Regions from separate parts of the Homo sapiens genome. Here region 1 is reported to be linked to region 2. Evidence: microRNA targets listed by miRTarBase, many of them from high-throughput screens and not tested one by one. Region 2 holds a microRNA gene; the other region holds the end of a gene's coding sequence.
What was found. The annotated mature microRNA hsa-let-7f-1-3p reads CUAUACAAUCUAUUGCCUUCCC and lies in region 2 at 1,746-1,767, opposite strand. An mRNA with a match to its seed (bases 2 to 7 or 8) in the 3' UTR can be bound and repressed. Matches are read on the target gene's strand: a 7mer-m8 pairs with bases 2 to 8, a 7mer-A1 pairs with bases 2 to 7 and ends in A, and an 8mer does both.

Region 1: miRTarBase lists ALG10B as a target of hsa-let-7f-1-3p. Seed matches in the 3' UTR shown: 7mer-A1 at 765-771, 7mer-m8 at 1,757-1,763 and 7mer-m8 at 2,230-2,236.

The regions. Positions count from the first base shown.
Region 1 is chr12:38,320,743-38,324,048 of GRCh38, forward strand. It overlaps ALG10B (ALG10 alpha-1,2-glucosyltransferase B), which reads left to right. Exons shown (of 3, transcript NM_001013620.4): 3 at 1-3,306. The coding sequence ends at 471. Among named protein-coding and RNA genes, the nearest start is that of ALG10B, 5.6 kb to the left of the region's middle.
Region 2 is chr9:94,174,870-94,178,175 of GRCh38, reverse strand. MIRLET7F1 (microRNA let-7f-1) reads right to left here and starts at 1,829; the gene lies at 1,743-1,829. It overlaps MIRLET7A1HG (miRlet-7a-1/let-7f-1/let-7d cluster host gene), which reads right to left. Exons shown (of 5, transcript NR_170278.1): 2 at 2,211-2,311. MIRLET7A1 (microRNA let-7a-1) reads right to left here and starts at 2,219; the gene lies at 2,140-2,219. LINC02603 (long intergenic non-protein coding RNA 2603) reads left to right here. Exons shown (of 3, transcript NR_160773.1): 3 at 445-1,607.

The DNA of each region.
Region 1 (3,306 bases), not on the chromosome of region 2:
TTAGTTTGGAAACATGGAATTCTGTTTTTGGTGGTTACCTTAGTCTCTGTGTTTTTAGTTTGGAAATTCACTTATGCTCATAAATACTTGCTAGCAGACAATAGACATTATACTTTCTATGTGTGGAAAAGAGTTTTTCAAAGATATGCAATTCTGAAATATTTGTTAGTTCCAGCCTATATATTTGCTGGTTGGAGTATAGCTGACTCATTGAAATCAAAGCCAATTTTTTGGAATTTAATGTTTTTCATATGCTTGTTCATTGTTATAGTTCCTCAGAAACTGCTGGAATTTCGTTACTTCATTTTACCTTATGTCATTTATAGGCTTAACATAACTCTGCCTCCCACATCCAGACTTGTTTGTGAACTGAGTTGCTATGCAATTGTTAATTTCATAACTTTTTACATCTTTCTGAACAAGACTTTTCAGTGGCCAAATAGTCAGGACATTCAAAGGTTTATGTGGTAATATCAGTGATATTTTGAACTGTAAAAATGGACTTAATAATTAGACCATTTCTACAAAGAACAACTGAATAGGTGGAAAACATGGAATTTCTTTTAGGTGCAGTGGTGGTCCTCAAATTACATTAGTTTTTTTAATATATATTTTAAACATATGTAAGAAATTAAGTGGCAAAGAACTGGGAAAGCTTAAGACCTGCTTCAAAAGCCTGAATAATGGGAAAATAAAATTGTTTTCAGATATCTCATATCGCTCTCGTAATGTTGGCCCCTCACAAAGCTTGGGAATGTTTTGTATGTATAAGTTTATTAAAACTGGGTATGCTTCATATTACTAGAACTAATTTATTCTCTTCAGAGAGAACTATTAGGTTAGTGCAAAAGTAATTGTGGTTTTTGCCATTGAAAGTAATGGCAAAACCACAATTACTTTTGTACCAACCTAATAACAATGTGTTAGCAAATATTTACAAATGGTCAGGTGATATTCTTGACTGAAAAGTTCCTTAACATTTCAGTAAATATAATTTTAATTCTAAGTCAAAATAGAAATGCATAGATAGTAAATGATAAAGTAGAGACTCATATATGTCTGTCTAGGCATCAAATTGTTGGTTATTGTTTACAATCCAGAAATGATGAAGCTCTTTCACTAATTCCTAATATGAAATGTATGATGGCCAAAGACAAATTGTGTTGATTATAATCCTTTAAAAGGGGGATTTCCTTTATGAAATACATATTGTATTAGCTTCCCAGGGCTGCCATAACAAATGACCACAAACTTGGGTGCTTACAACAATTTTCCTCACAGTCTGGAGGCCAGAAGTCTAAAATCAAAGTGTCAGCAGAGTTGGTTCCTTCTGGAGGCTCTAAGGAAGAATCCATTCTATGTCTGTTTCCTAATATCTTGTGGCTGTCTGCAATTCTTGGAGTTCTTTGGCTTATGGGCATATCTTGTCTAAGTATTGCAGACAGCAATCTTCACTCCAGTCTCTGCCTCTGCGTTCACACGGCCTTTCCCTCTGTCTTTTCATTACCTTTTAAGGACAGTGTCTTTGAATGTAGGGCCCACCCTGATCTAGGGTGATTGTGTCTGGAGACCCTTAATTATGTTTACAAAGACCCATGTTCCAAGTAAGTTTGTATTCACATGTTCTGAGTAGACATTGTCTCTTCATGGGATACTTTTCAGTCCATGACAGTTACTAAAGGACATTTTAGGATAATCCTCATATGATTGTTAGGAGACTACCTTTAAAAATTTTTTATTATATATCAAATTATAGTTGTATATACTTATGAGGTACGAAGTGGCATTATGATTTTTGAATATAATGTGGGATGATTAAATAAAGCTAATCTATCCATCACCTCAAATATTTGACATATTTTGTGATGAAAACATTTGAAATGTACTCTCAACAGTATTGAAATGTACATACAGTGCTTAATTATTAGCTGTATTCACCATGTTGTGTAATAGATCTAAAAAAAGTCAAACATATTCCTTCTATCTAATTGAGGCTTTGTATCTTTTGATTGTCATCTCCCTATTCCCACATCCCCGGCCTCTAGCAACCATCATTCTTCTCTCTACTTCTGTGAGTTTAATTGTTTTAGATTACACAAATAAGTGAGATCATGTGGTATTTGTCTTTCTGTGCTTGGCTTATTTCACTTACCATAATGTCCTCCACGATCATCCATATTGTTGCAAATGACACAATTTCTTCCTTTTTAAAGGCTGAATAGTATTTTTTTGTATATATATGCCACATTTTCTTTATCCATTCATCCATGGATGGACACTTAGGTTGATCGAATCACTTGGTTATTGTGACTTGTCTGCAATGAACATAGAGTGCAGACTTCTCTTTGACATACGGATTTCAAATCTTCTGGATAAATAGCCAGAAGTGGGATTGTTGGATCAGGAGATAATATCTTAGCTGATACCTTTTAAATAACTCTCAGTATCTTTACTGAGAGGTTAAAAAATAAGTGACTTCTTAGGTAATATAAAGCTAAAGGTGACTAGTGTTTGATTCCATTATCTATTAAAAAAAGTCAGAATTGAAAGAAAGTTGAGAAATCCTTTGGTCTGACTTTGTAGATTAGGGAACAACTGCTGGGGTAGGATTATTTTGTGTTACTTTTTGAATTTTGTGTTTATTATTTTGAGTGTATTTTTTGGGTTGTCATTCCATTACAGGAAAGTATTATTTGGGCATGTTAACTTTGACATGTAAACTTAGAATTGTGAATAGAACTCATCTTTTAACATAATTTTATGTTTCTAAACTTTAAAAGTAGCTATAAGTGAACAAATTACTTTCCCCTCAATGTCAAATTTTGCTTCTCTGAGTTTTAAGTGATGAGTCTACATTTACAAATATAAAATTGTGTGCAGGTGAAAATTACAAGTATAATTTGAGTAATAAATGCAGGCCATTTTTTGGTTGTACTCTAGTACTCAGAAAATAGATCGGCATTAGTTATAACAGTGATTGTAGAAAAACGTGTTTTACCCAGACTTCTTAAAAATTAGATGAGAGAGGACACTCAAAGAAATTATACTTTTGTCATTAATTTACTATAGTGGAGAACTAAATCTGGGAAGTCAAAATTGAAAAAAGAATGTGTAATTTAGGGAAAGTAACTTTTTGTCTGATAATATTAATGCAAGGATTTTGTATTTAGGAATACTTCTGAGAGGAGAAGCTTCCACTCTGATCTAGTCTGGCAAAATTGAGGAAAATATTCTACCCTGTAATTAAAGAAGACTGCTCTTTGGAGGGATCACTGTTCTATATCTTTTTTTGTTTGTTTTTGTCTT
Region 2 (3,306 bases):
CTGACCTCAGGTGCTCCACCCGCCTCAGCCTCCCGAAGTGCTGGGATTAGAGGTGTGAGCCATGGTGCCCAACCCAGTTACCAACATTTAAATATCAAATTTCATAAAATCTCCAGTCTCTCCTGTTAACTGGAAAAGTAGGTGACAATGTATATAAACCCTGCTTGCTACCTATCAACCAGAGCAAATTAATTTACTATATTTGCCAGTTACAACTAGCCCCTCCTGGGCCTCTGATGGTATTTCAGTTTTTGACCCCTGAATTAAAGCAAACAGAAACAAATTCTGATCATGAATTTTATCATCATTAAAAACAAGCTTTCAGAGATAGTCATTCTCTCCATAAAGGCATTTTTAAAGTTTTATTTCGATTTACTTACTCTGCTTAGCTAATAACAATGTCCTTATGTAATTAATAAAATATATAAATTAATTTTTCTCCAGGGCTTAATTATTAGATAAGGATACGTTTCCAACTGAAGGTGGCAACGTTATGCTGGAAGAACATGTCAGGAAGACCACAAAATTTCATGACTGTACTTGCTACACTTTCAGCAGAAGAGTTATACATATTTTCAATTCAACAAAGATTAAGCCAAAAAGAATTCTTAGAACATTCCCACTCTTCTTTGGCACATCAAAAGGCAACAAATGTCATTTTCTCCCATGTTTTTATGTGCAGTTTAGAACAAAGACCAATTATCTATGCAGCTGTCCACAGTGGATAAAACAAAAAGCATACATTTGGTCCAGAGTTAAGTCACCTGGGTTGGGCCCATCCAAGGAAGTTTGATGTTTCTACTCTCATGAAAAGTACCAATGGCACTGCACAGTGATTATCTTAGATATTAAGGATAAACACAAATTTCTCCTTAAATTTCCATTTATTGGAAATGATTGGAGGGAGGGAACTTCTCCCTCACCTCCACACTGCCTCTTTTCCAACTCTTCTTCCAACACAAAATAGTTTAAACAGCAAGCACTTAGAGAGCTTTTAGCCTTGCTTGTTGATTACAAGGCCCAAGTTAGTGTATGGTTTGCCCATCGGAGGAAAGCTAAAACATGGGCCTTCATGGGTATTAAAATTGAAGAAACCTTTTCCAGCATTTTTTCTATTTTCTTTAAAGTAACAACCTATGGACTTCCCCATCTGACATTTTCGAGTGATCCCACTGTGTGAATGAAGGACTACTTCAGGGTTTGAGGGCAAAGCTGAAATCTTAGCAACTTACCAGTGAGCAAAGGTAGAACCCAGAGCCCATCTCTCCTTTTCCAGGCTGCTGAGTAAAGTCTGGCTCAATCAACCTATCAATGAAGCAGTGCTTACAACATTCTCCAAGACCACCCAAAACCCAAACTGGAAATGAATCATGACTAATCTGACTCATTTTGGCTCACACAGTGCCCTTCCAATTTGTATTTACCTTTACCACCCAGGACCTGACCTTGGACATGTGTACCAGGATGTAAGGCAATAAACCTATTCACAATTCCAAAAGGGCCTGGTCCTCTATGAAGATTTCCTGAAGGCTACTTACTTTCTCTACTCATTAAAATTTTTGCTTAACTTCAAATTTCTGAAATATACCATATGTGAAAAATTTAAATGTTAATCTGTGCCTACTGTACTACTTGAACAGAGAAAATTAACTGATAAACTGTAAATACAAAATGTCAAAATTAATTCTTCTGAGTTTTAATATCATCTAAATAAAAAGAAAATAATGCAGCAAGTCTACTCCTCAGGGAAGGCAATAGATTGTATAGTTATCTCCTGAACAGGGTAAAATCACTACCCCACAACTATACAATCTACTACCTCACTCTGATAGAGCAATGTTTTCTTCTGGAATGGAAAGTACAATCTCTTTCGAAAGAAAATTTCAACATAAAATTATCAGCATAAATCAAAATAAAAAAATACATTTATTCTGACACAGAGAAATAAGACAAGAAGCAAAAGGTTTCCCCACCCCCATCCAGTGTACTTGCTACAGACTTTATCTCTAAATTAATTTATTTCCAGGCCATAAACAAATGCTGCACTACATCTCTTTAAGACAAGTTAATCTTAAATATTGTACAATTAGTTAACTGACTTTCTATCAGACCGCCTGGATGCAGACTTTTCTATCACGTTAGGAAAGACAGTAGATTGTATAGTTATCTCCCAGTGGTGGGTGTGACCCTAAAACTATACAACCTACTACCTCATCCCACAGTGAAGAGAACATCCAGGGTGAATGGTGAAAAGGAATCACAGTTGAGCACCACAGGAAGGCTTTTTTTCCTCCTCGGTAATCCTGGTTTCCTGTGTGAGTGATAAGAAAAATAGTATTAGACCATTTTCATTCACTTACGTTGAAAATGAAGTTTAACTGAACATTTTGGCTACATGCATAATCTATGCTGTGGTTTCATTTCCTGTATTTCATTAATAGTATTTTAAATGCTTGGTTATCTGAATCCGCTCCTAAAACCATGTATTTACAAGATTCAGAAATCACCCTCTTACCACCACCTTTTACTATTATTAACTGCTGGTTTTCTTACAGTTCCTACAAATGAAAATGCATGAAATAACTTATCCTTCAAGAAACAACAAAAAATCATTACAGAAAAACATGACAGCCTCTAATTAAAAATCCAATGACTTCAAAACCCAAAAGTCCTGTACATCATGCATAATCCAAATGCACTAACATACAACGAGATAATATAAAAAACACACACAAATAGAAACTAATTTTTAAAGGAACCTACTCATTTATCCCATGCGAGCAAACACTAAGTGGTCTTATTAGGACTAAATCAAAGATAATCACCTGGATCTGATTCAGGGTCAGGATCCTTTCCTTTAGATAGAAAGGTAATATGTGGATTGAAGGCAGAGTCCAAAATCTTTAATAAACCCAAGTAATCTAAACTGTATTATTACCCTTTAATTTACAGACTTCATATTTAGGAGGTAGCTACTACGAAGATTATCTTTTAAGATAGGGACTAAATTTATTTTGTAGTGATTTAGTAACCAAAAGCACTAATTTTTAAAATTACAAAACGTAATAAAAAACATACGGCTCAATATAATAGAATTTAAAGTCTAGAAATAAACCCATACATGGGTCAACTGATTTTCAACCATGACAAGACAATTCAACTGGGAATCGTTTTTTCAACAAATAATGCTGACGGCTGTATAGCCACATGCAAAAAAAATGGATCTGCATTCTTTGTAAACTGGTGTGCAAAACACACATTAAAGTAACTTAAAACAACCTAATTTAATGGTAAAATATTTTAATA